Linked DNA regions of Homo sapiens. The protein of the gene in region 2 purifies or fractionates together with the protein of the main gene of each other region. This does not show direct contact. Each region holds a gene or a part of one and is shown on either strand. Other genes may lie near its edges.

What was found. Proteins that work in one complex are often made in the same cells at the same time.
Region 1: the proteins of YWHAE (region 2) and TBC1D1 purify together in Homo sapiens (affinity purification with mass spectrometry; 4 studies listed by BioGRID and IntAct, with this or other methods). This does not show direct contact.
Region 3: the proteins of YWHAE (region 2) and NKD2 purify together in Homo sapiens (affinity purification with mass spectrometry; 4 studies listed by BioGRID and IntAct, with this or other methods). This does not show direct contact.

The regions. Positions count from the first base shown.
Region 1 is NC_000004.12:37,894,078-37,901,102, reverse strand, and holds part of TBC1D1 (TBC1 domain family member 1), read right to left. Parts: intron 1-7,025. UniProt on the Homo sapiens protein: May act as a GTPase-activating protein for Rab family protein(s). May play a role in the cell cycle and differentiation of various tissues.
Region 2 is NC_000017.11:1,362,211-1,369,235, reverse strand, and holds part of YWHAE (14-3-3 protein epsilon), read left to right. Parts: intron 1-4,177; coding exon 4,178-4,377; intron 4,378-7,025. UniProt on the Homo sapiens protein: Adapter protein implicated in the regulation of a large spectrum of both general and specialized signaling pathways. Binds to a large number of partners, usually by recognition of a phosphoserine or phosphothreonine motif.
Region 3 is NC_000005.10:1,025,796-1,032,820, forward strand, and holds part of NKD2 (protein naked cuticle homolog 2), read left to right. Parts: intron 1-6,356; coding exon 6,357-6,417; intron 6,418-7,025. UniProt on the Homo sapiens protein: Cell autonomous antagonist of the canonical Wnt signaling pathway. May activate a second Wnt signaling pathway that controls planar cell polarity.

The DNA.
Region 1 (7,025 bases), on a different chromosome or scaffold from region 2:
GTCTATGTTCTTTCTTCCTTTTTTTTTTTTTGAGACAGAGTCTCGCTCTGTTGCCCGGGCTGGAGTGCAGTGGCACGATCGTGGCTCACTGCAACCTCCACCCCCTGGGTTCAAGCAATTCTCCTGCCTCAGCCTTCCAAGTAGCTGGGATTACAGGCATGCACCACCACACCTGGCTAATTTTTGTATTTTTAGTAGAGATGGGGTTTCACCATGTTGGCCAGGCTGGTCTCGAACTCCTGGCCTCAAGTGATCTGCCCACCTTGGCCTCCCAAAGTGCTGGGATTATAGGCATGAGCCACAGTGCCCAGCCCTTTTCTGTTTTCAACAACCACGTTTGATGTATCCTAACGCCTTCTTGTCCTATTGGATGACAAAACCCTTTTGTTCAAAGCTGAGTTGTCTGTGGGATCTCAAGCCCTATTCTTTACTCACTTGCTCCCTGGATCTTCAGTCTCTCCTGTATCCAGCTCCCTGCCCCTGCCCCACTCCCCTAGCATATGGACAGATGCTAAGGTGAAACTCCATGAAGGCAGGCGTTGCATCTGTCTGATTCACTGCTATCTCCCTCGTGTCTGCCATAGTGCCTGACTCAAAGTAGGGACTCAATACGTATTTTAAAAGAATAACTGAGGGGCTCAATAAGTATTTTAAAAGAATAACTGAGGTCTCTCCAATCGAAAAAAAAAAAAAAAGATATTTCCTTTGATTTCAAACTTCCCTTGGCCATGGCTCTTTCTCTTCCTTCCCTCCAAGGTAAGGTCTACACTTACTGTCTCCACTTCCTATTGACCATCCATTCCTGGTTTGTAAGGCCTGGTTTGCCCTAGGGATCCACTGAAATTCTGTTAAAGTTGCCGAGGTCCTCAAGGTTGTAAAATTTAAAGGAGGCTATTTAGCCCCTGACTGCCTTGTTTGCTCTGACGAATTTCTCAATCTTGGCCACACCTTCCTTACTTTTTTTTTTTTTTCTTTTTTTTTTGAGACGGCTCCTCGCTCTGTCGCCCAGGCTGGAGTGCAGTGGCGCGATCTCGGCTCACTGCAAGCTCCGCCTCCCGGGTTCGCGCCATTCTCCCGCGTCAGCCTCCCGAGTAGCTGGGACTACAGGCGCCTGCCACCGCGCCCGGCTAATTCTTTTGTATCTTTAGTACAGACGGGGTTTCACCGTGTTAGCCAGGATGGTCTCGATCTCCTGACCTCGTGTTCCGCCCGCCTCGGCCTCCCAAAGTGCTGGGATTACAGGCTTGAGCCACCGCGCCCGGCCACACCTTCCTTCTTGAATCTCTTCTGGTTCTTATCTTACCTTTCTGGTTGTTTCTTTCCACATACTTCAAAGGCTTTTCTTCCTGTGTTTGACTTCATCCTCTCCCCTCATTTCACCTGCTGTTTTGGGCAATCTCACCTAATCTTTTGGTGTCAAGCACCACATTCTGGTGATCCTGCTGCTGATGACAGCAGCTGACTTCTATTGAGTACCACGCACTTTGCCTATGTTGTCTCATTTAACCTTTGTAACATTTATCCGCTAGAGCCCACTATGATGAACTAGGAAACTGAAGCCCGGAGAGCTTCAGTCACTTATCACAGGAGATGGGGGGCAATTTGCACTTGAGTCTAAATCCCATCCCCTTGACTGCTGCACAAGAATGCATCTACCACATACACCCTAATGGTGCCCAAGTGTTCTGCTCCCACGGAAGCCTCCTTCCTGAGTTCCAGATCCATATAGGCCATTAAATATTTCTATCTGGATAGCCTATAGGCTCCTAGGCCTGAATTTAGTTATTTTAAAGCTAACTCGGTCTCATCTCCCTCCTTCCCAGAATTTCTTTTCCCTCCTATGTGCTGTATCTAGGTGAATAGCATCACTACTCACTGAATGGCCAAGGGGTCATTCAGATCCCTTCTTCATCCTATTACTACCTCTAACTGACTTCACCAACTACTCTTTCTTTTTCGTCCTAGAGAAAAGGTGCCCCATCCTTCAATCCACCCATCGCATATTTCCTGGAGTAACTTAATCAACACAAAATTTATCATATCACACCCCTGCTAAAAATTCTCTAATAATTCCCCCATACAATCTGAAGTCTTCTACCTGGCATATAAGGTCTCTCAGGAATCTGGCTGTGTCTATATCTCCAACTTTATATTCTCCCCTAAAATGCCCTCCTTGGTGCACCTTTTAAAGGCTCTGAAGATAGAGAACTAGTTATGGTTCCCCGTTTCTCATGCCTCTGAGCCATGGTGCATACGGTTCCTCTCTCCTCAGAATATAATCCCTGCCACAAACTGCAAAGGGTCTGAGATTTTACCTTACTTGCAAACTAACACGTTAGCCCGCCACAGTTATCCTGCTGGTAGAAAACATGAGACTCCTGGGTTGGAGACGAAGGACAATTTATTACTCAGGGCAGTCACAGTAGCCAGACAGTCAGCATTTCTCTTGGTTCCCTGACCCCCAATTCCCACAGGTCAGGTGACATCTGTATCATGGTGGGTTACAGGAAAGGCAGCTGAGTTTAGGGAGCCGGAATATCTTATAGTGGGAAGTACAGGAAGCAAGCGTGTCTGCCCTTTGCTCCAGAGGAAGACTCTATTTCTATCTTCCATGACTGTTTGCTGTAGAAACATGATGGAAAAGGTAGTTTGGAACACAGGCACTCAATGCCCTGCTTACAAGGTGTGTAGAAACAGGAAGGACCCATGGAGAGTCATCTACCAACAGTCTCCATCCTTGTCTTCTATTTCCAACTAGTACTTAAGTCCTACCTCAAGCAACTACCACCTCTTTTTTCCAAGGTGTTTTAGGGCATGTATCAGCAGGCTTTTCTGCACTTTCTACCCAATCACCATATTTAAGAGTTTGAATAGGTGTCCCTCAAGAAGACCGTAAGCTTCTTGAATTCTTAAGGTTTGGGGTTTCCAAAATCAGTATTCAAATTTTAAACCTTTTCTGAACAGGAACTGAAGTCTATTCTTTTTACTCTGTGTTTTTCTGTATAATATATATGCACAATGCTAAGAGCAAATTTTTATAATATAATTTGAACATAACTCATAGCTAATTTTTTATTTCAAATGTTCAAGAAATAAAAAATAAAGCAATACTTTATTTACAGCTCAGGCATTTCATGAAAGTAAAGTCCCTGACTGTCCTTTAAAGCACAGCTTCTCCTAATAATGAAAACGGACTTGAAGTTCACATAATCCCATAAATAATGATCTCTCTTTCTCTTTATTCTCTCTCTCACAGGTGAAAATGACATTAAATGTCTGGATCGACTTCTACTCCTGTAACAGAATCTGTTTCATGTTCTAACTGTTGACAGCTGCTAATCCCAAAACATGTTTAAAGAAGTACTAGAATTATTACAAAGGATAAATCTGAGCTCTATCAATTATTTTAGATGATGCAGTTATTAATATAGTGGCAACAAGCATAGCAGAATTACTTTCAATTTCCTTCTTAGAGTATAGATGTACACAGTACCAAAAATTCAGTCATTTAAATCAGTTGATAATAATCAGTCATCAAATGAGTCCTGCCATTTCATTGACAAAACATTTCAATGCCTGAAGTTTTTGTTTTTCAACCAGCTGTAGCATGTTCTTAGCTTCTCTGTAAAAAGTAGATTAGACCTTAGCACTGTTCATAAACTATCAAATAATAAGTTCTACATCCAACATAGCCATAATTATTTATAAGCAATTCAGATTCTGCTAATATAAGATTCAGGGTAACTTAGATCAGGTGAATATCTACATTACTTGTCAATAAAAACTTCCATAACAGAGATAAACTATGCAAATAATATTAGGGATTTGGTTTAAAAGTAACTGCAATTTTTGCCATTAAAAGGAATGGCAAAAACTGCAATTATTTCTGCACCAGTTTAATACTAACAAACCATTTGATTATTTTTTAAAGCCATCTCAATCCATGTTATTTGCACTCAACCTTTGACCATTCTTTAAGCCCCAAATAGAACCTCATATTCCAAGGAGAACTCTTATGTTTCATACCCTCAGCAAGAAATACTGTGATTCCAATAAGCTTCTAGTAACGTTCTTGTTAGTAGAGTTGTCTGTGTACACGCCCTATCCCTCTACAGCAAACCTGTGTATTCTGCACAACTCCCACCTAGCACAGTCTTTAAACATAGTAGCTACCCAAGACACAAAGATGTCCTTTATTAGAACAGTTTCAATAATCTTGTTAATGTGTCCTGCTATGCTACATATCTCTGGCAGCATACACTTAGAATCATAAAATTTTAAAGCTAACAAGCTCCTTTTAAGCCATTTAGAAATTTCCCTAATATTTGAAATGAGGCAACTAGATTCTGGAAAAGTTAAGTGGCTTGTCCAAATTTAGTGACAGAATTGGGACAATCCAAGTCCCTGACTCCCATCCAAGTGCTGCAGAGAACCCCAACTTCCTCATGAAAACACTTTCAAGTGTGAAGTTGAAAAAGCAAGTTACTCAGCTTCTCCAAATATTGTTTGTTCTTATAAGAGAATGGAACAAGATCATCCCCAAGTTTTCTTCCATCTCTAAAATCTGGTAAATCTTATTTTCATAATGTATAATACCAAATGTCCCCAACATTGTGTGGGGATGGAAAGCTGCTCCCTTCTTCCCTTAAAGAACAAAAATGTGGGGGAGGTACATGAAGAAAGGATGGGAATTATTGATCAGGAAGTGAGAGAAGCAAGGGTAGGTATTAGTAAGCTGCTTATTGGGAACCCCCTTTGTTCCCAGCCCCCTCCACTCCTTCACAGCAAACTACAGAGAGCAGGATGGGGACTTTACAGTAACTGACAGTACAACAGCCTCTGCAGCTTCAGCCCTCACCTCCTCAGAATGCTGGTGGGAGTGGGTAGGGAGAGAAGAAAGGATGAATGGAGGGGTGCTAGTGGCCTCTAGCTCTAGGTCAGATTAGGAACCGGCCAATATTGATTGGCTGTTGGGGACCCCAGAATGGACAGGAAGTCCCCAGGCAGCTACTCATATTGCTCTGTGAATCAATGGTTTAATTTCTCTGTTCTTTACGCCAGATGGAGTGAGCATGCACCTGAACAGAATTATACTGCAACCTGAAGTACTCTAATCCCATGCAGTAGGCTCACTGACTTGGCTACACTCTTCATCCACTTCCTCCACAGGATTCCACCCCAACGGGAGCAGTGTGTTCCTCACCCAGGAATCCCACAGGGAGCAACAACCCTTGGAGTAGAGGCTGTTTCACCATTGCATGGAGCTCCTGAAACCAGTGGTTCTAAATGTTTTCATCATCAAGGATGCTTTAGTACTGGGGTGTGCCTTTCTAATTTGACATGTAAAGTAATGATGCTTTTGAATGACTTCTTTCTCATATAAATTATTATTATTATTTGAGACAGAATCTCACTCTGTCACCCAGGCTGTAGTGCAGTGGCGTGATCTCAGCTCACTGCATCCTCCGCCCCCTGGGTTCAAACAATTCTTCTGCCTCAGCCTCCCCAGAAGCTGGGATTACAGGTGTGTGCTACCATGCCCGGCTGATCTTTGTATTTTTGGTAGAGATGAGATTTCGTCATGTTTGCCAGGCTGGTCTCCAACTCCTGACCTCAAGTGATCTGCCAGCCTCGGCCTCCCAAAGTGCTGGGATTACAGGCACGAGTCATATAAATTAGAGCCAACTCAAGGCTAGTCCTTTAGAATGGCACTGTCACTTCTTATACTCTTCATTGCACAGGAAAAAGGGTGGGAAATGGGCGAGTGTCCTAGCTGGCCCTCAGAGATTATGTATAACCCTCCTACCTGCAGTGTTCCTTTAAGTTATTCTGCTAAAAGTAAAAAGAATAGTTACCAACACATTATCATAGTGTGTTTATTAACTGATTTAACTTACAAAACGTTGGACAATAAAGGAATATTATCATTGAATAGTGGCACAGAAAAGTGAGGTCACCTGCCCAAGGCCATACTATAAGAAGTGGCAGAATCGGGATTTGAACCCAGGCCCTTTGGCTCCAGAGTTTGCTTGCTCTTAACCACTTTGCTAGAGCAATATCTGTTGACCACCTACCACTTCATGGACATTTTACATTCATGATCTTCTGTACGTTCACAAAGCTGAGAAGTAGGTTTTGTCATGCTCATTTTACCAAAGGGTTCCCTCACTAATAAATTGTGAAGGTGGCATTTGAATCTATATCTGTCTTATCTACAAACTTCTGTTGTTTCTCACAGATGATATCCAAAGATCCCATAGATCTTTAGATGGGAATAACCCTCAAATATCTTTCTAGTGGATTAGCTGGGTTGGTCTATCTAAATTTTGCTTGGCCTCAGCAATCCAAACCTAACATCAAAATTATACTCTAAAAGTATAAAATAAATAAACATAATAATAGCAATAAATAATATTGAGTGCTCACTGTGTACCAGGCACTGTTCTAAGCACTTTGCATGTATAAATTCACTAATTCTGGCAACAAACCTATAGGGCTTACCTAATTCAGAGGTTTAGATTTGCTGATTATATAAAATGTGCTGATAAATACACGCATTGTCTTTTGAAGAGAAAAATAGCTGTTGCTCATCTCAAAGGAGACAGGCACACTCAAAATTAAATGCCTCTTTGTTGGTTCTAAAATGTATTTCCTACATTCTGCACAGCTTCATAAAAACCTACATATCAAGAGTTTTTCAGTTGGCCCAAATATGACACATCTTTTTCTAAACATCTGAAATCTGAAAAGGGACACATTGCCCCTGCATCTAAGACCTCATCAAATGGAACTTTTGGCTTAGAAATGTCAAAAACTGGTCGGGCGCCGTGGCTCACACCTGTAATCCCAGCACTTTGGGAGGCCAAGGCGGGTGGATCACAAGGTCGGGAGTTCAAGACCAGCCTGGCCAAGATGGTGAAACCTCGCCTCTACTAAAAACACAAAATTTAGCCGGCCGTGGTAGAGCACGCCTGTAGTCCCAGCTACTTGGGAGGCTGAGGCAGGAGAATCACTTGAACCCAGGA
Region 2 (7,025 bases):
CCCCTGCTCCCGGCCGAATAGTACACTTTAAATGGGTGAATTGTTAGGTAGGGGAATTATATATAAATAAAGGTATTATTAAAGGGATAATTGTTGCTTCTATAATTTTACCACACAGTCTGTGCATTGTTTTGTGTATATGTAAAAATGAAAGCATTTATGCTTGAATCTGGAACAGTAGAGTATCACTGAGTGTTACAAATATATTTCTCTTTGCATTATAAAAATACTAAGTCTTCGTTGTTGAAAATTTGTAAAGCACAGAAATTTGAACAAAATTAAATCATAAGGAATGATATTCGAGATATGTAACTTAAATTTTTGGTAGTATTTGATGTCTGCATAGTTTTTCTGTATGTAATATTGTAAAGCCTTAAAAGAATTAATGGCACTGTTTTTGTGTAGCTGGGTTACTTAAGATTTACTTTGCGATCAGTTTAGAAAGTTTAATTACAGGCTTACCTCTGAGTTATGTTTGACTTGCTGATTTTTGAGAATTAAACTAGTATGGAGGTACGATTACCTATTCCACTGCTTCTAAATTTAGACTGTTTCGTGACTGGTTTAGAAAACAAAATTGGGCATGTTTTAGATGAATGCTTTCAGACTCCTACAAATGAATTAATGAGTGGTCTTATTACCATATTGTAATACTTTTTTTTTTTTTTTTTTGAGACAGAGTCTCACTCTGTCGCCTAGGCTGGAGTGCAATGGCGCGATCTCAGCTCAGTGCAACCCCTGTCTCCGGGGTTCAAGCGATTCCCCTGCCTCAGCCTCCCGAGTAGCTGGCACTATAGATGCCTGCCACCATGCCTGGCTAATTTTTGTATTTTTCTTTTTCTTTTTTTTTCCTTTTTTTGAGATGGAGTTTCGCTCTTGTTGCCCAGACTGGAGTACAGTGGCGCGATCTCCACTCAGTGCAACCTCCGCCTCCCGAGTTCAAGCAATTCTCTCGCCTCAGCCTCGAGTAGCTGGGATTACAGGCATGTGCCACCACGTCTGGCAAATTTTTTTGTATTTTTAGTTTCTCCATGCTGGTCAGGCTGGTCTCGATCTCCCGACCTCAGGTGATCTGCCTGCCTCGGCCTCCCAAAGTGTTGGGATTACAGGCGTGAGTCACCGTGCCTGGCCTAATTTTTATATTTTTAGTAGAGACGGGGTGTCACCATGTTGGCCAGGCTGGTCTTGAACTCCTGACCTCAGGTGATCCACCTGCCTCAGCCTCCCAAAGTGCTAAGATGACAGGTGTGAGCCACAGCACCCAACATGTCATCCTTCTTTAATGGTTCAGAATTGCATTTAAAAAATCAGCTTGAGGTGTACAGTTAAACGTGCCACTTTTACATGTACAATTCTGTGACCTGTCCTTTGCACAAAAGCCCCTCAGTTCACCTCTGTACCTTGATAACCATTTGCTTTCTGTCTTTTTAGTTTGTGTTTTTTGCAATTTGATATAAATGGAATGATAAAATCCTTTTAATCTGACTCTTTTCACTTAATATGATGTTTTTCAGATTCTTCCATATTGTTGCTTGTATCAGTTAATTATTTTTCTCCCCTCCCGTCTCCTCTTCTCTTTCTGGACACAGAGTCTCTCGCTTTGTCATCCAAGCTGGAGTACAGCGTTAGGATTATACAAAGTAATTGTGGTTTTTGCTGGCAAAATGCGCAATTACTTTTGTACCAACCTAATAGCTCACTGCAGGCCTGAATTCCTGGGGTCAAGCAGTTCTCTTGCCTTAATCTCCTGAGTAGTTGAGACCGCAGGCACACACCACCACACCCAGCTAATTTTTGTAGAGGCAGAGTCTCACCATGTTGCCCAGGTTGGTCTCAAACTACTGGGCTCAAGTAATCCTCCTGTCTTGGCCTCCCCAAATGCTGGGATTACAGATGTGAGCCACTGTGCATGGACAGTTAATTCTTTATTTTTGAGTGGTATCCCATCTTACATATGTGAACATCAGTGTGCTTATACATTTCCCCTCTGGATGCACATTTGAGGGGTTTCCACTTTTTGGCTATTATGAATAGAGTTGCTGTGAGTGAGTGTGTAAAAGTCTTTGTAAAGATTATTTTTCTTCTGGATGATGCATAGAATTGGGATTGCTGAGTCATATGGTACATGTTTATTAAAACATTGCCGAATATTTTTCGAAGAGACTTTACAAAATATGGCTTAATTTTTTTTATATTCCCGAAAGGATTAATTTTTGAAACATATTTTCCTGGATACATTAGGCACACTCCCCTTAATTTAATAGTGTTTTGGTTTTTGTTTTGTGTTTTTTTTTGAAACGGAGTCTCACTCTGTCACCCAGGCTGGAATGCAGTGGTGCAATCTCAGCTCACTGCAACCTCTGCCTCCCAGGTTCAAGCAGTTCTCCTGCCTCAGCCTTCCTGGTAGCTGGGATTACAAGCGTGCACCACCATGCCCAGCTAATTTTTGTATTTTTAGTAGAGACGGGTTTCACCATGTTGGCCAGGCTGGTCTCGAACTCCTGACCTCAGGCGATCCACCCACCTTGGCCTCCCAAAGTGCTGAGATTACAGGTGTGATCCACCGTGCCCGTCCAATTTAGTAGTGTTTTATGAAGTCACCATCTCTTTCATACCTATTAGTTAAGGTATGCTTATGCTTAGGGTGTTAATGAAAGCTAAGGATGCTTATTTAAATGCAGATTCTTTCTTTTGGTTTTTTTTGAGATGGAGTCTGCTCTGTTGCCCCAGGTGGCATACAGTGGGGCGATCTCAGTTGCAATCTCTGCCTCCTGGGTTCAAGCAATTCTGCTGCCTCAGCTTCCCAAGTAGCTGTAATTACAGGCGCGCACCACCAAACGCAGCTAATTTTTGTATTTTTAGTAGAGACCGTTTCACCACGTTGGCCAGGCTGGCCTTGAATTCGTGACCTCAAATGATCTGCCCACCTTGGCCTCCCACAGTTCTGGGATTATATGCATGAGCCACTACATCCAGCCTATTTTTATTTTTATTTTTATTTTATTTATTCTATTTTTTTTTTTTTGAGGTGGAGTCTCTGTTGCTGGGCTGGAGTGCAGCGGCATGATCTTGGCTCACTGCAATCTCCACCTTCTGGGTTCAAGCGATTCTCCTGTCTCAGTCTCTAGAGTACCTGGGACTACAGGCGTGCATCACCACGCCCAGCTAATTTTTGTATTTTTAGTAGAGACAGTGTTTCACCATGTTGGCCAGGATAGTCTTTATCTCTTGACCTGGTGATGTGCCACCTCGGCCTGCCAAAGTGCTGGGATTTACAGGCATGAGCCACTGTGCCCAGCCTCTGTTTTTATTTTTTAGAGACAGGGTCTCGAACTCCTGAGCTCGAGTGATTCTCCTGCCTCAGCTCTCAAAGTGCTAGGGGTATGAGCCACTTACTCCTGGCCCTAAAATGCAGATTCTTGAGTCTCATCACCAAAGATTGAAACGTGGGTAATGTTGGAGAGCCACATGGTAATATGGCATCAAAAATAAGTTTTTATTAATGTATTTATTCAGTTACTATTTCTTGTGCTGTTTGTGGCGCTTTGCATTCACACGCCGTTGTGTTTCCCTATGCTTGCGGTAGATGCCAAGGCTTTTCTGGGCCCCTTTCTTTGCTCGCCACCTAGTGGTAACAAGTAGGAATCATCAGAAGTTTTACCAATGAAGGAGCTTCATACGAGGAAGGATAGAAAACATCCAAAGTCTGTTGGTGGCCAACCATATACTCCGTATATTTTTGCTGTATGAACAAATTCCCCTTCCTTTTGTATTTTTGGAAATACTATTTATTTGTGAGACAATACATTTTAGAACCTGTAAATTCTTAATCTTTCTCTTAAACTGACAGCTCATTTTTTTTTGCTGGAAAATAGTTAGGTGTGCCTAATTACCTTATTTAATGAGAGGTGCTTTCAGACCACACTAAATTATATTAGATAGTATATGAAGTCTTTCTCACTCCACCTAACTACCTTCTGGAGTCTTTGTATTGGCTCTTAGTTTGGTTTCCTTTACATGTTTTTGGCTTTTTACTCATATTAGTTTTGATGATTATGAAATTATTTTTGTTAAAATGTTTTTTTCGCAGTAGCTTGACAGAAAAAAACTACTTTGAAAGGAATATGTTAAGAAAACTTCAAATTTGTAAGGTCTGACTTTTCCTTTTCCCATACAGAAATGGTGGAGTCAATGAAGAAAGTAGCAGGGATGGATGTGGAGCTGACAGTTGAAGAAAGAAACCTCCTATCTGTTGCATATAAGAATGTGATTGGAGCTAGAAGAGCCTCCTGGAGAATAATCAGCAGCATTGAACAGAAAGAAGAAAACAAGGGAGGAGAAGACAAGCTAAAAATGATTCGGGAATATCGGCAAATGGTGAGATTGTTGTGCCATCATCCCCCCTTATCCACAGTTTGAGTTACCTGTAGGACGGTACACTTAAGATTTTGAGAGAAAAGGAGACTACATTCATATAACTTGTATTACAGTATGTTATAATGTTTCTGATATTGATCTTTGTGCCTGGTTTATAAGTTAAACTTACCCGTGGCTATGCATGAGGACAAAACATAGTCTGTATCAGGTTTGGTATTTTCCATGGTTTCATCACATCCACTGGCAGGTCTCAATGGATCCCTCTTGGATAAGGGGGAACTATTGTATTTTCAAGCAAAATGATGACTGTTTTTTAAAAAAATATGGTGGGTTGGCCAGGCGCGGTGGCTCAGGCCTGTAATCCCAGCACTTTGGGAGGCTGAGGTGGGCGGATCACGAGGTCAGGAGATCGAGACCATCCTGGCTAACATGGTGAAACCCCGTCTCTACTAAAAATACAAAACATTAGCTGGGCGTGGTGGCGGGAGCCTGTGGTCCCAGCTACTCGGGAGGCTGAGGCAGGAGAATGGTGTGAATCCGGGAGGCGGAGCTTGCGGTGAGCCGAGATCGCACTGCTGCACTCCAGCCTGGGTGACAGAGCGCGAGACTCCATCTAAAAAAAAAAAAAAGCACCCAAAAACCAATATATTGGGTTAATTTGTCTGATTCCTCTTTTTTTTTCCCTGAGGATTATTTAATGAAGTTATTTTACTTACTGTGGGTGTATATACATATATAAAATGTTTCTTATTGTAGGTCTTGTTAAAAAAAAGTTGGACAGCCATCACTGTAATGCAGCAGTTTTCAATTAGAGGTGCTTTTGTACTTCAGAGAACGTTTAACAATGTCTAGAAATACTTTTGATTGTCACAACTTCTGGAGGGTGTTCCTAGCATCTAGTGGGGTGGGGACTGGGGTGCTGCTAACCATTCTACTGGGCACAGCACGGGCCCCACAACAAACTGTCGGGAGTGCTGCTGTTGAGTAACCGATTCTAGTAGAAGAGACAGGCACGTAAATACAGGAAAGAACAGGGAAGAGAATTACAGGGCAGGTGGAAAGTGAGGTTGGTTGGGGGAGGGAAGGGTGGGGGAACCACAGTTACTGACTCGCCAGCTGTACTGGGCACTGTCCTGAGTAGAGAAATATTTTTGTTACATGTATTTGTGCAAGGTAGTACATGAAATCTTTAAAATGGCACTGGAAGGGGGAGGTATTATCCCAACTATGAATGCACAAACCAGGGTTTTGGGTGTTTGACATACCTGAGGTCACATAGAAAGTTGTGAGCTGGGGCCTTCCGTGGTGGCTCATGCCTGTAATCCCAGCACTTTGGGAGGCCAAGGCGGGCAGGTACCTGAGGTGAGGAGTTCGAGAGCAGCCTGACCGACATGGTGAAACCCCGTCTCCACTAAAAATACAAAAATTAGCCAGGCATGGTGGCGGGCACCTGTAATCCCAGCTACTCGGGAGGCTGAGACAGGAGAATCGCTTGAACCCAGGAGGTGGAGGTTGCAATGAGCCAACGTCGAGCCACTGCACTCCATCCAGCCTTGGCAACAAGAGGGAAACTCTGAATCAAAGAAAGAAAAAGTAAAAAATAAAGAGTCCAGATGTCCTGATGAGTCCCTAAATAGAAATAATAAGAGAAGAGGAACTGAAAAAGGAAGCCACGGGCCAAGAGTGGAGTGTTGCAATTCAGACTTCTAGTATGGAGCAGCATGGTCATGGGTGTGGACAAGTGAAAGTCTAGGAGTAGAGAGCAAAGAACTCTGTTGAATGGAACATGGCTGCACCATACCTTGGTGTGATCTCAGGTATTGGGTGGGTTTGCTGTAGATACTCAGTGAATCTGGGAGAAGGGTGTAGAGATCTATTGATGACAAAAACTGAGAAATAGAATGTAGATCATCAGCTTGTGAGGAGGAAGAGTTTGGAGTAATAGAGCAGTCATTGAGTATGCAAGGAGCTAGGAGAACTTAGAAGTCTTCCTTCTCCTAGACCAGTCTCTATTGGAAAAGCTGTCAGGGATGTCGTTTATTCAGAAAGTAGTTTTGCTTGGGATAAGGATGTGATTATAGAAGAAAAAGAGAGAATTTTCTGCAGTGAAACGGAGGTTCCAGGGGCACGGAGAGGACCCTCATGAAAGGTTCAGCAGTAGTGCTGCATGAGTTAATAGCAAACAGGAAGCAAGCTGAGGATGTGCGTTGAGAGGTGGTGTGCGTGTTCAGCATGATCAGTGGATAGAGATGGGTGGCAGTAGCTACTTTGGTAGATAGGTTTTCGGTGTTTTAATAGTTACGGATCTCTGCCACTAAAGGAATTGCCTGGTGAATGTTGTTAAGGATGTGAGTGCTGAAGGCAAACTGCCTGGGTTTAAATTTTGATTCTGTCCCTTGCAGCCTGCCTGGGTTCAAATCCTAGCTCTGCTTATTAAATTCTTATTTAATTGTTGATCTTAGAGCAATGTCTTTACGTTGCTACCTTGTGAAAGAAGGTAATTCATGTAATTGACCAGCATTTACCAAGAAGCATCAGTGTTCAGTTTTAGTCATTGGTAATTCTGTAGCTGTACTGTGGTACTGTGAAGGGGGTGTGGGGGCTGGCGTGTGTGCGTGCCTGCATGTGTGTGTGTAACAATAGGCAGC
Region 3 (7,025 bases), on a different chromosome or scaffold from region 2:
AGCCCATTGTCCCTGCTCTTCCCACCCGCTAGTGGGCATCTCAGCCCGTTGTCCCTGCTCTTCCCACCCGCTGTGGGCGTCCCAGCCCGTTGTCCCTGCTCTTCCCACCCTCTGTGGGCGTCCCAGCCCATTGTCCCTGCTCTTCCCACCCGCTGTGGGCGTCTCAGCCCATTGTCCCTGCTCTTCCCACCCGCTAGTGGGCGTCTCAGCCCATTGTCCCTGCTCTTCCCACCCTCTGTGGGCGTCCCAGCCCATTGTCCCTGCTCTTCCCACCCGCTGTGGGCGTCTCAGCCCATTGTCCCTGCTCTTCCCACCCTCTGTGGGTGCCCCAGCCCATTGTCCCTGCTCTTCCCACCCGCTGTGGGCGTCCCAGCCCTTTGTCCCTGCTCTTCCCACCCTCTGTGGGCGTCTCAGCCCATTGTCCCTGCTCTTCCCACCTGCTAGTGGGCGTCTCAGCCCATTGTCCCTGCTCTTCCCACCCGCTGTGGGCGTCCCAGCCCTTTGTCCCTGCTCTTCCCACCCGCTGTGGGCGTCTCGGTCCATTGTCCCTGCTCTTCCCACCCTCTGTGGGCGTCTCGGCCCATTGTCCCTGCTCTTCCCACCCGCTGTGGGCGTCCCAGCCCTTTTTCCCTGCTCTTCCCACCCTCTGTGGGCGTCTCAGCCCATTGTCCCTGCTCTTCCCATCTGCTGTGGGCGTCTCAGCCCATTGTCCCTGCTCTTCCCACCCGCTGTGGGTGTCCCAGCCCATTGTCCCTGCTCTTCCCACCCTCTGTGGGTGTCCCAGCCCATTGTCCCTGCTCTTCCCACCCACTGTGGGTGTCCCAGCCCTTTGGGTTCCTTGGGATCCAGACATCACCCTCAGCCTTTTCCTGAGAGGCCCAGCTCCAGCCCGTGTGCCATATCCCAAAGCTCCCCTCCCTGAGCCACCTGCCAGGCACTCACTTCATTCTACCACGTCCAGCATCCTCCCAGCCCCCGAGGCAGGAGGTCACTGCTGGCCTGGACGTGGCCTTGGTCCTGCCCAGCCGCATCCCAGGTGCCTCCCGAGTGCCCTGAGGTGGCGGTGGCTGCAGCCTAAGCTTGGCAGGCGCCTACCTTGCTCCTCACCACTTGGCATCCTGCCTGAGCCCCACAAACTGGCCCTCGATGCCACGACAGCCCCGTAATTCTGGCAGCCTTGGGCCTGGCAGCCCAGTTTGTAGGATTAGCCCTGCAGAACAGGGTGGCCACAGGGGTGGTGACAATGACCACAGGACATGGGCCAGGCTGTCACCCCGGCCCTTCTTTCCAGCTCCTGGGGGCCCCCTGGGCACAGCTCGAGAGCCACTGCTTGACCTGCCAAGGACAGGGAGGTGCACCAAGGCCATTTCCCCAGTGGCAGAAACTTCGAGCCAGGGGCTCCACCCAACAGGGCCGTCCCCACCACAGTGCAAGGTGGCCAAGGCGCTGGGGAGCCAGAGTGCAGCCTGGGAGGTGCCTATGGATCTAGGGGTGCCAGGTGCTGCTGGTGGCGATGAAAGCTGTAGGAGAGGCCCGTCCTGTGTCAGGCGGTGTAGGAGCTGTGCCTTCTGGATAACGTCCCAGACTTGGGGTTCCACACCCACTCCAGAGGGACCCGGGAGCCCCGAGGTCTGGAAAATGCTGCCCGACACGCCCACCCAGTTCTCTGAAGCCTTCCTCTCTGTCTCTCTCCTCCCTCCCCGCTCCCTCTCCTCTGCCTCGGCTCCCATCACCTCCACCCTCCCAACTCGTGGGGAGACGTTGGGCTCCAGGGGATGCTCCCAGCCTGGCCTCCTGGACACGCTGTGGCCTTTGCCTGTTGATCGGGGTTGGTATTTCTAGAACCCTAGACCAGGGTTTAGGTCATGTCCCAGAGGGCCGTGACTTCACTGTGGACACCCGTGTGTTTCCCACCGGGCGTTCCACCAGAGCTGTGGCCAACAGCTGCCCTCACGAGGCCCAGGAGGGGACAGCGCCTCCTTGCATTTGCGAGACCTGGGAAAGGTGCCTGGCCGTGCCCACCTGTCCACTGGGAAGAGGACATCGCCCGCTCCAGGTGGCTCCCAGAGGTGCCTGCACCGGCACTTCCAGGTTGAAGGCCACCAGGATGATACCTGTGTTGCAGCTGCCTGGCGCCTCTGCAGGGGTTCCGACAGACGGGGTGGCTCTGGGGGGCAGTGGTGCTCCAGCTGCTGGGCGCTGCCGAGCGCTGGCACGTGGGGAACACACTCCTTTTGACTTTTCCAAGGAAGCTGGGGGTTGAGGTTTTGTGAGCGTCTCTCCGTGCCTGGCCGCCTGTGGAGGCTGTGGTTTGCATCTTACCGTCTGGGCTGGGACCAGGACGGGGGCTGGGTGCTGGGAGGACGAAGCGCTCAGCCCGGTGCCTGTGGCGGGGATCAGATGTCCTCACTGTCGTGGCGGGGACGTGGACGGTGGCCTCGGGGTGGTTGGCTCACAGACCAGGGTGGCCTTCCTGAGCATCCCGTAGGGCCGTGGGACCTGAAGCAAAGGCTACCTGTTGTTGACGCCGTGTGACAGACGCCTGCTGCTCATGCAGCTGCGAGGCTATGGGTTCTGGTCCCGGAGGCCTCCGTGGGTTGGGGTCAGACCCTCCTCCCAAATCTGAGGTGATGCTGAGTGAGGGAGTGGGGTTGAGCTGCTCAGGCAGATGCGGCTGCTTTCCTTATGGGATGAGGCCCCACGGGGCAGGCCCACGGTCGGGTTCCTGTCCTCCCAGGGGCCAGGAGAGCCCCCGGCATCACAGGAGGATGCCATGGGCGGGAGGGGACAACGGGCATGGGGAGGTCTGCAGGCCAGCCGTGGGGTCCCTGCTGACCTGGAGGGTTCTCAGGGATGCAGAGCAGTGGGACAGGCTAGAGGAGGCGCCTAGGCACCCCAAACCGGAAGTGCAGCTGGGACAGGAAGGGGGGCGGAACAGGTTGGGGGATCACAGGAGGGTCTCGCTAGGGACAGGGCCAGAGGGATTGAGGGGGAGGGTTGGGCCCTCGGGAGGGAGTGAGGGTAGGGTGGGTCCTCAGGAGGGCGAGGCCAGGTGGGGGCTGCATCTCAGGGAGGGGCGCCCGCCCTGGGAAGCTGAGGCTTTGGTGGGTGCCGGGGCACATTGGGCCAGGCCTGCTGGGATCCTGTGTGCGGACTTGGCCTCTCAGAAGGTCTTCCCAGTGGGGAGGGGCTGCACATCTGGCCAGCGGCCCGGGGGCAGGTTTTATAAGTTGCAATTAAAGCTCTTGGCCTTCTAGTTAACCGAGGCAGCGTAGATTAAAGGGCAGTTTTATGCAACCAGGACGGATCTGATGAAATCACCAGCCACAGAGATTGGAGTGGCTTTGACTGTAGATGCTCATTTTTTCCCGTTTGATCCTCCCTGCATCTCAGAGGTAGCTGTTGACCTGGGTCTTAGAAAAAACACTGTGCGTTCGAGCGCTGAGAATTCTAGGGAATAAGGGGATATTTTTTCAATGTGGTTTTCCTCTGTGTTAGGAACTCAGTCATGGGCTGGTTGGTGTAGTATTGGCTGGTTGATACAGCGTTGGCTGGTTGGTGCAGCGTTGGCTACATGGTGTAGTTTTGGTTGGTTATTACAGTTTTTATTGGTTATTGTAGCTTGGCTGGTTGGTGTAGCGCGCGGAGCGTTTCCAGACATCAAACCACGGGTCTGTGCAGATTCTGTCTTGAACAGCTGCGCCCCTCCTTCTGTCACCCTGTGCATTTACACTCCTGTCTGTAACCAGTGAAATCCCCCACAAGTGCGCTCAGAATTTTTAGAAACACGGCACGGGCTGCGTTTACATTTTCACTGTATTAGCTTTATGCGTGGAGTGCGTGATGTGCTGTTTCTCACTTGACATGTTCAGCAAATCGTGGGAAACACTTAAAAATCCTTAAAAAATACTCCACCCCGTCCAACCCGTCGCCCGCTGCCTGTCCTCAGGAGCCACCGCACCTCCGGCTCCTCTGAGTTCTGGCACTTTCCAGGAAGCCACTGCTGCTGCCCCTCATCTGGGCAGCGATGTGGCCTCCATGAGTGACCTCAGTTAAGGCTCTTTAGCAAGGAGTGCTGTACGCGCTGGCCCTCAGGCCCCAGGGCACCTCACTGCTATCTGTAAGGAGGCTCAGGGCACCCAGCACCATGCAGGAGGCCTGAGCTCTGCCTGCTGGTCTGATGGGAGGTGAACTGGGTGCCTGAGGGGGGATTGTGGTGCGGGGGGGGGGGTACTGAGAACCCTGGGGGCTTCACCACACAGGTCCCCTGCACCCTCCCCACATCCCAGAGGAGAAGGTCTGGGCTGGAGCTCCCAAGGGTAGACAGGGATGCCTCGGGGCACCCACCTCAGCATTTAGGGTCACCTTCCCCTCCCTACCAGCCCTCCACAGTGGCAGTGCCTGCGTCCCTCAGCCTGGGCATTGGTGGTCTTGGCTGCCCCCCTCCACAGTGACAGTGCCTGCGTCCCTCAGCCTGGGCATTGGTGGCCTTGGCCCCCCTCCGCAGTGGCAGTGCCTGCATCCCTCAGCCTGGGCATTGGTGGCCTTGGCTGCCCTTATGACACCATTTCTGTCGGCAGCCACCTCCAAGCACCTGCACGAGTCCACCTGAGGGGCTGTAGAGCTCCTAGTATCTGGTCCATCCCACGAGGATTCTGTGCCCATGGGGGCTGCAACTCTGGGGCTCTGGGCACTGCTCTGCACTCCATGGAAGCCCACGACTGCAGCCTCACCCATTATTCTGATTTTGAAATAAATAAATAAATAACTACAGCCTGGGTTTTAGAGATGATTTGGTTTTATGCCAGCGTCCACCTGGACAGAGCTTTTCCCTCACAGCGGTGCCTCCCTGCTGTGTGGATGTACAAAGGCCTCGCCGGGCTGGGCTCATGGGGCCCCTCAGGCTGCAGCAGCCAGTCCCGGAATGTCGGGACTGCAGCCCCCAGGAGGGAGGCCTACTTTTTAATAATCAGCTGTTTTGTTTCTTATTAAAATGAGGGCAAGCTCTCCTGCCTCCCGCTGGGAGCTGCCCACCCTGCCTTGGCACCGCCCTGGGCGGCCAGCAGGAGACCTCAGCTCTGGGGGGCCCTTGGCTCAGCCACAAGGGGGGCTGGGGGCCTGGGTCTCACTCAACAATATTCAGCCTCGGCAGCGCCACCTTAGTGCCCATGTGTGGGTGGGGGTCTGGTCCCTCTCTCCCCACCCAAGTTCTGGGGTGGCAGCTGGCCAGCCTGGAACCTTCCACCATACCCTGTTTGGACCCTGGCCAGTGACCACGGTGGCAGGAGGCGCTTGGGGGGGTCCAGGTGCCCTCGAGGGTGACCCTGCTCAGCCTCCTGCCTGGGCCAGACTCCAGGAACCCCAGGGACCCCGGCAGGGCAGACAGCCCCATAGGAGGTCAGAAGAGATGAGGGGCACATGACCCCTGGTCAGGAGGAAAGGATGAAGCCGTGGGGACTGTGAGGGCAGTCCCAGCTGGGCAGCCCTGGGGTCCTGTGTCCACCCACGGAGACACCAACTCGGCACCAAAGTCATCTCCAGGGTCAGGCTCTGGCCGTCCAGGTGGACGGGACTGAGCTCTGTGCTGTATCTCCTTGTGGGCTTTCCACGGCTTTCCAGGGACCTGGAATCAGAAGCAGAAACACAGCTGCCCATCCCTCCCGCCCGCCTGCCCGAGAGCTGCCTGCTCTCAGGAAATGCTCCAGGGCGGTGTGTGCTGGGCCGAGGGGCTCCGCACCTCCACCACTGCGCAAGGCCCCTGCCCTGACCACAGGTCTGTCTCCTTCTCTGTGTCCTGAAGGCTGCAGATTATTCATGAGAACCATGTGAGCTTCGGCTCAGCTGAAACACCGCTGGGATGTGTTTGAAGTTTTTCCCCATTTTCCGTAACTGGTCTCGGCCGGCAGCCCTATAAGAGGCATGTTGGGGTCCTGGGCAGCCATGCGGGCAGCGGCTGGAGTCCTCGTGTCAGGCTCCAGTGGGCAGTGCTGGGAGCAGGCCCCAGAGCAAAGGGGCAGTGTGTCTCCTCTTGCATTTAGGGTAATCCAGCATGGGGGCCCTGGCCAAGGGGATCCCCAGGGCAGCACTGACTGAAGGGGTCATTCCAGGCAGCTGCATCTTCTACCTGGAAATGCTTTGGGGAACCTGACAACACAGGAATGTCTGTGTGTTTTGCTTCCTAAAATCTGAGGCTGAGTGGGGCACGAAGGGTTGGTGTTTCTGGACCCAGAGATTGAGACGCCCCAGGAGGCCTGAGGCGAGTGTCAGGCTCCAGTCCAGCCGCCCAGAGCTCCTGCCCATCTCCCCCGCCTGCCCACTGAGCTATGTGGCCACTGACTGCCCCGTTCTTCCTGCAGGAGCTGCCCAATGGGGACCCCAAGGAGGGGCCTTTCCGGGAGGACCAGTGTCCCCTACAGGGTGAGTGCAGCTCCCGCAGCCCTCCCTCCCCAAACTCACAGACTTCATCCCGTACCAAGGCAACGCCGAAAACCACCCTTAAAACAACCCCGTGTGCGGAGCGAGGGCACTTCCCAGGCTTAGACGCACTTTGTTCTTAAAAAGCCTTGGCAGCACAACTCACAGGGTCCTCGCTGGACTGGCAGCTGCGATCTGGCAGCAGAGACCAAAAAGGCCTGTCCCATGGGCAGAGCCCTAAGCGTTACCTTTATGTGTTTGGAGTCTCTGTGAGCCTGTGTTTGTGGATGGGGGTGGCTCTGTATAAAGGGGACCTGTGAATTTTCAAGTTAGCCCTGGGCTGGAGGATGTGTGAGATGCTGGCCCAGCCTAAGTCACTGCCACGCGTGTATGCCTCAGTGGCACCAGTCCTACCTGTGGCGCGTGGCAGGTCAGCACTTGGCTTACCTGTGGGTCTGTGGGAGGGTGCTGGGAGGCCAGCAAGCAGGGCCACCTTCGGATGGCTGCTGAAGCCAAGAGAGGCACCCACACCCCCTCAGTGGGAAGGCAGGCCCAGAGCATCGTCCCAGCTCAGGCTCGACGTGCACCTGTCTGCAGGTGCTGAGCCCGGA